2 linked regions of the Homo sapiens genome follow. The protein of the gene in region 2 purifies or fractionates together with the protein of the main gene of each other region. This does not show direct contact. Each region holds a gene or a part of one and is shown on either strand. Other genes may lie near its edges. The genes, in order: MRAP2 and MC3R.

Region 1 (3,131 bases), on a different chromosome or scaffold from region 2:
CCTCTTAAAATGCAGATTCCTGGGTCACAGACCCTCAGAATCTGTGAATGTAGGCTCAGTAATAAGCATTTTCATATATTCTCTAAGGATCATTACTCATACTGAAGTTTAGAACCACCGGCCTAAAAACAATAATACTGTCTCATAGGGGTACATTAAATATTTGCCAAAATGCTATAATATCCATTTTTCTCACTTGATTCTCAAAAGTAACCAATACAGTCAGTTAGGGCAAGAATTATGATGTGCATTTTACAAACGTATGAACTCAGGTAAGGAGCAGTCAAATTGCCCACTTAGTCACACAATCAGTTTGTGGTATGAGTGGGAATAAAACCCAGATTCCTAATTCCTTGTTTCCTTTAACGTGGAACAAATAAGCAGTTCAAGGGTAATAAATGAGTCAATGAGTGAATAAAATAACTCTCAATGAGTCCCACAAGTGCGTGAAAGAAAGAGCCCAGGTAAGCTGAGAACCTGATACTCCATCTACTTTAATCACCATCCTTTCCAGACTTAAAGAAGGATTGCCCATGCACAGGTAGTGACTCCTTAAAGGCACAAATCATGACTGAATGTGTTTTCAAGTCCAGAACAGAACCTGACAAAAATCAAGCCCTGGAGTTTGTGCTCAACAGATGTGTAATCCTCTCAGTGTTTCCAGTTCTTAAATCTCTTCCTTCCCATCCTATCACTCAGGAGAAAGCACTTATGACCAAATTCTGTAAGAATTTGGGCAGAGGTGAAAAACAAAAAAACAAAAACAAAAAAAACACAGGTCTGGAAAACCTGATTGTATATCACTAAACTCCAAATTATCAAAATCACCTGGATTTCAGAGGTCAGCAACCCTAGAAGGTTTGTAATCCAGCTAGCTGAAGGAATTTTAATATCAGATCTGTCTCCTAGCATGGTTACCTGGGTGACATCAAGCAAGAAATCCTTTCAGAAACCTGTATTTTTCCTTTTAATAATAAGCCAGGTTAACAATTTTCACTGCCCACTAAACAAACATGTTGTGAACGTCAAGGGTTTATGCAAGAATCCAATATTCTACTATGTCAGGTATTCAGAATTCAGAGAAAATCATTTTAGAGAGACTGAAGATTTATGCTTTAGTGCAAATTTACATGGTCTTCTTTGTCTTTCTGTAAATGAGTTTCCCTCAACTGTCATTTCTCTCAGGTTTAAAAGATATTTGAGAACAGGGATGAGTGTGCCAGCAACCTGTGACCTGATAAACTAAAATGTCACCTAGGAAAAAGAGTGGCTTAAAGCTGTGAAAGGAAAATATCTTGAACCCCCAAATCACTAAGCTAAAGGGAAAAGTCAAGCTGGGAGCTGCTTAGGGCAAACCTGCCTCCTATTCTATTCAAAGTCACCCCTCTGCTCACTGAGATAAATGCATATCTGATTGCCTCCTTTGGAGAGGTCAATCAGAAACTCAAAAGAATGCAACCATTGTCTCTTATCTACTTACGACCTGGAAGTCCCCTCCCTGCTTCGAGTAGTCCCGCCTTTCCAGACTGAACCAATGTTCATCTTACATATGTTGATCGATGTCTCATGTCTCCCTAAAATGGATAAAACCAAACTGTGCTGTAACCACCTTGGGCACATGTCTTCAGGACCTCCTGAGGCTGAGTCATGGGTGTGTGTCCTCAACCCTGGCAAAATAAACTTTCTAAATTAACTGAGACCTCTCTCGGATTTTGGGGGTTCACAAAGCATTTGGAGAAAGCATAATTAAGATTGCTGGGGTCCACACCATTCCTCAATTCCAAGGCTAAGAAGCTCTGAGAAATAGCTTTTCTGCCTACCTGTGGCACCAGCTGAGTGTGACAGCAGACCCAGAAGCCCAGCTGTGTGTGGCTGCTCTTCCATAACACAGCTATGTTTCCTGGAATTAAAGTCCATTAGTCACCCTTGCTGGAGAACTAAGGCACAAGAGACCAAGAGAATTTTGTCCCTCCCCAGGACAGTGCCAAGGCAGTGGACATTAAAGCCCCTCTGAGGTGCCTTTCCTGCCCCCTGAGGCTACCCTGTGCTCCCATGGCCACCCCCTCCCTTCTGGCTTCCTCCCGATGATCCCTTGGTATGGCAACAGTATGATGTGTCTGATTCTCCCTTCCTGAGAAGAGCAAAAAGTTCATCTTTGTACTCTTAGAGTCCAGTAAATATTAAACACTCAATATACTTGACTTTTATTTGTTTCTTCTTTCCTTGACTGATAAACAAAAGGACCTGTATGTTGTGAAAGTTGTCAGAATAAATATGGAGTCACTTAATGTTATTAAAAAATATCCTGATGAATAGAGCTGGGGAAGGCCATGAAGTGGGAATTCTCACTCACAAATGTCTGATAACAAGAACAATCATGAAAGATGGCAAAAACCATAACCTTGCACAAAAAAATACTTCTATAAGGACATCTGCCCAGCAACTGCCTGTCCAACCTGGAACTGGCACCACCCATATTGTTCCTTGTAGCTAAGGATAACTCTCTCCAAACAATCATGTAATCCTCCTTACTTTTCCTTTAAAAAACTTTGTCTTCTTTTACTTCCCAGAATATGCACATAAGTTATATGGCATGAGTATTTTCATTGCAATGACCCATTACCATGTAAACATCATTTTCTTTTAGAGAACCTCTCAGTATTTGTTATTTAGGTTGACATAAATGGTCTCCAGAAGCGGAACCTGAAGCAAGATCACTTTTGGAAGGAATCAGTGATTCTTGGAACCTGCAGGCTGTGCTCACCTTGAGCCCTTTGAGCTCTCTGCCTCCATGGCTCACCTGTTCTTCCCTGGTGAGTCTTCACTCAGGCTAAGCCCCTTCTTCCTGATAGAGGCTTTTTGACTTTATCTGAGATTTGGTTTGGTTATCAGCCTACCTTAAATGAAGAATGCTGCATCTCTCTTGGAACTATAAAATTCTGTTTTTGGCAAGCTCTTCCTGAGAAGTGTCCTTGTGGAGAGTACTCCGGTTTCTACAACATTTACAATCTGTCTTGGAGACATGTCTTTTCTGGTGAGTTCATTTTTGGTTCTTTCTGCATGCCTAGTTTAATATTTTGTTTGATCTGCATGCCTGGGTTAAAATTTCTGTGAACAATCCGATTTGGGTT
Region 2 (3,410 bases):
GTTACATCCTCATGCTACCTTTGGGGGTGGGGACAACTGAAGGGATATGGGGGTAAGAAAAGGGGAAAACGGCATAGCATTGCTCCTTTCACAAAGAGACAATTGTCTAACTGTAAATAGAATAATAGAGTAGAACTCAGTCTCCTACGGAGTTATAAGTGCAAAGCTATCTCTCCGTGTAGCTGGCAGCAGGAGGTCGTAGCTGTAACAGGTTTGCTTGCAAGAGATCTGAACCACCCTTATTGTTCATGAGAATCCTTCAGTCTGGTCTGGCCTGGAGCATGAAGACGTGGGTGTGGAGCAGATGAGCAGACAGGCGTCGCACACCCTGGGTGTTTGGAAATGAGTGCAGAGAGCATGCAGAGAAGCCTTCGCTGATTTCTCCCAGTGACTATTTGGGAAATCAGAGTTTGTGACTTACCCATCTTGGAATCCTTTCAGAGAATCTGTTGTTCACCAATTTTCCCCTTTAAAAGGCTTTGTAAACTTAAAAACAAACGACAAGTACAATCATGGCTGTTAACACATTTTTATATTTTCTAAGTATATATATTTTTCTTTCTAAACACCTCACGTGGATGGAAAGTCAAAAGTGACCCGACTGATGATCATTTCCATGGCCCTGCATCCTATCCCAAGTTCATGCCGTTGCAGCCACAGAGAATCTCCCTAAAGGTGTTGCGCAATTCCAGGCTCCGGAAAGCGTAGATGAGTGGGTCGATGACGGAGTTGCACATGATGAGGACCAGGTAGGTGTTGAAGTGGGCAGTGTAGCAGATGCAGTAGGGGTTGGTGGGGCAGGTGATGATGAGGACCAGGTGGAGGAAGAAGGGGGCCCAGCAGAAGATGAACACGCCCAGGAGAATGGTGATGGTGACTGCCCCCTTCATGCATGAGTGTTGCTGTGGGGCCACCCCGTCGGCAGGTGGCAGTGCTGCTATGCGCTTGACGTGCAGCCGCGCAAAGAGGAACATGTGCACGTAGAGGGTGCCCATGAGGAGCATCATGGCGAAGAACATGGTGATGAGGCACACAATGACCATTTTGCTCTCCGAGTAGACGATGAACACCACGCCACAGACGCCGCAGCAGACCCAGATGGCCACGATCAAGGTGAGGGCCTTCCTCACGGTCATGATGCTGTGGTAGCGGAGCGCGTAAAAGATGGTGACGTACCTGTCGACGGCGATGGCCAGGAGGTTGCAGATGGAGGCCACCAGGGAGATGCAGATCATGGAGTCGAAGATGTTGTCCATGTGCTGGATAAACTGGTCCTCGAAGGTCAGGTAGTCGCTGTGGACGATGGCGATCATGATGGTCTCCAGGGCATTGGACACACTTACCAGCATGTCGGCCACCGCCAGGCTGCAGAGAAAGAAGTACATCGGGGAGTGCAGGTTGCCGTTCCTGACCACGGCCAGGATAACCAGGATGTTTTCCAGCAGACTGACGATGCCCAGAGACAGGAAAACCTCGGGCTTGATGAAGACCTGCTCACAGAAGGCGCTGCTGCTCTGGTTGCTGAAGAAAGGGGCTTGGAGGTGCTCCGAGCCATTAGGCAGTGTTGGCTGAACAGAGGGCAGGCAGCACGAAGCATTCATTGCTGTCAGAAGGGCTGATCCGAGCTGGGGCTCCAGCAGGGTCCGTAGGAAGCTGCTGCTGCTCACAGGAAAGACAAAATCTCCCTCCAGATACGTCTTTTGGATGCTCATTCAATCTGGCCTTAGAGTTTATTCTCCTCTAGAATAAAAGGATGGGGAGGGTAGAGAGACAGATAGTGAGAGAGGGTGGAGGAAGAGACAGAGAGAGAGAGAGACATACACACAGAGAGAAAGAGCGAAGGGGGAAGAGAGAGAGAGAGGGAGAGTAGCTAGTTAGTAGCTAGCATGCAAGTTTGTAGCTTGGAGACATAGGGAGAACTTTGCTGTTCCAGGAGGAGCAGTTTTTATCTTGTTTACATAGAAAAAATACACCATAGGGTCTCTTACCAGCTGTCTTCCTTCTGTCTCCCTCTCACCCCTCTGTTTGTCTCTCCTCACTTCCCCACCTGGGAACAGAAAACCTGCCACCGGCTGCTACAGTTACAGCTCTTTTCATGGCAAGACAGGGGATGTGTTACTTGTCGCTAGAAGTGAAGGGAGAACACTCAGGTTTTTCATATTGGCCAAGGGCAAACAACTCCTACTTAATCTTCAGCGCAGCAGAATGACCACTGAGCATCGGGCACCTCTCTGACTGACAGCAGGTACCTGGCCCTGAGGATTCTGCAGGGAGATTAAGAAGCAGACTAGTGCCCTCTGCAGGCCGCACGGCTGTCTGCTTGCTGGCTTGGCTTAGCCCTTTGTGTTTGTCATGGAAACTGCCACAGGCATCCACTCATCTGTTCATTTGTTTGTTTATTTGTTAGTTCATTCATTTGTTGTTGTTGTTTAGCAAACATTTATTGAGCGCCTACTATGTGTCAGGTCTCTGCTGAGTGCAGGAAATACAGTGGTGAGCAAGACAACAGCCACTATCTCAGGCTTCCCCGAACTCAGAGTCTGGGGTGGAAGAAGAGGAATCAATAAATGCTTGAATCAGGAAAGTCCAGGAAACCAGGGATGCAAAGAGGAAGAGCCCTAACCCGGACTGTCAAAGTTCCTGGAGGAAGGAGCACCTATGCTTTGACTTCAAGGAGGAAGAGGTCATATCCAGTTTGGGGTGGGTGGTGGGGTGGGGGCTGGAGCTGGAGGAGGTAGAAGAGGACTCCAGGCAGAGGGAATCACACGTCTGCAGCCTGGAGGCAGAGAGCACCCTGGCCATAGAAGTCATCACAGATTGTGGATGTGGAGATCCCATTTGACCCGCGGAGTCAGAATCACCCAGGTGTAAGACCTGAACAAGTGTGTTTGCAATTTTTGACAGGTGAGCTGGGGCATAGTCACAGTTGAGCTCCACTGAAAAAGAATCTTGGGCTTTTGAAAGTGCTGAAAGTAGTCTGCTCTGGTCAGAGCATGGAAATAGGAGACACAATCTGAGAAATGAGGCTGCACAGTTTCTTAAAAAGTTGAGAGGTGCCTGAATCCTGAAGGACAGCCTCAGCCAGATGTGAGAATTTGGACAGTACCTTGACAGCAATGGGGACTGTGGAAGAAACATAGGTAGGGCAGGAATGAGATGGGGTCTGCATTTTAGAAATATTCCTGGTTGCAGGGTGGAGAATGAATTAGACAGACTGAGCATGTAGGCCAGGGAGTCCGGGGCAGAGGGTGTTGCAAAGACCCAGGGTGAGATGATGGTGGCCTGGAGCAAGGGAGTGGCCATGGGGACTTGGAAGACTTGGAGGGTGGTCAGAGAGATTCAGAAGGTTGGATAATGCAGCTTCAGAACTGATGGGTTATGGGATCATGGGAGAGGGAGCAGTCAGAAAC

The links.
Region 1: the proteins of MC3R (region 2) and MRAP2 purify together in Homo sapiens (co-immunoprecipitation; one study listed by IntAct). This does not show direct contact.

Annotation. Positions count from the first base shown.
Region 1 is NC_000006.12:84,085,631-84,088,761, reverse strand, and holds part of MRAP2 (melanocortin-2 receptor accessory protein 2), read right to left. Parts: intron 1,901-3,131; coding exon of another isoform or gene 1,821-1,900; intron 1,575-1,820; coding exon of another isoform or gene 1,481-1,574; intron 1-1,480. UniProt on the Homo sapiens protein: Modulator of melanocortin receptor 4 (MC4R), a receptor involved in energy homeostasis. Plays a central role in the control of energy homeostasis and body weight regulation by increasing ligand-sensitivity of MC4R and MC4R-mediated generation of cAMP.
Region 2 is NC_000020.11:56,247,035-56,250,444, reverse strand, and holds MC3R (melanocortin receptor 3), read right to left. Parts: upstream 1,714-3,410; 5' UTR 1,602-1,713; coding exon 630-1,601; downstream 1-629. UniProt on the Homo sapiens protein: Receptor for MSH (alpha, beta and gamma) and ACTH. This receptor is mediated by G proteins which activate adenylate cyclase.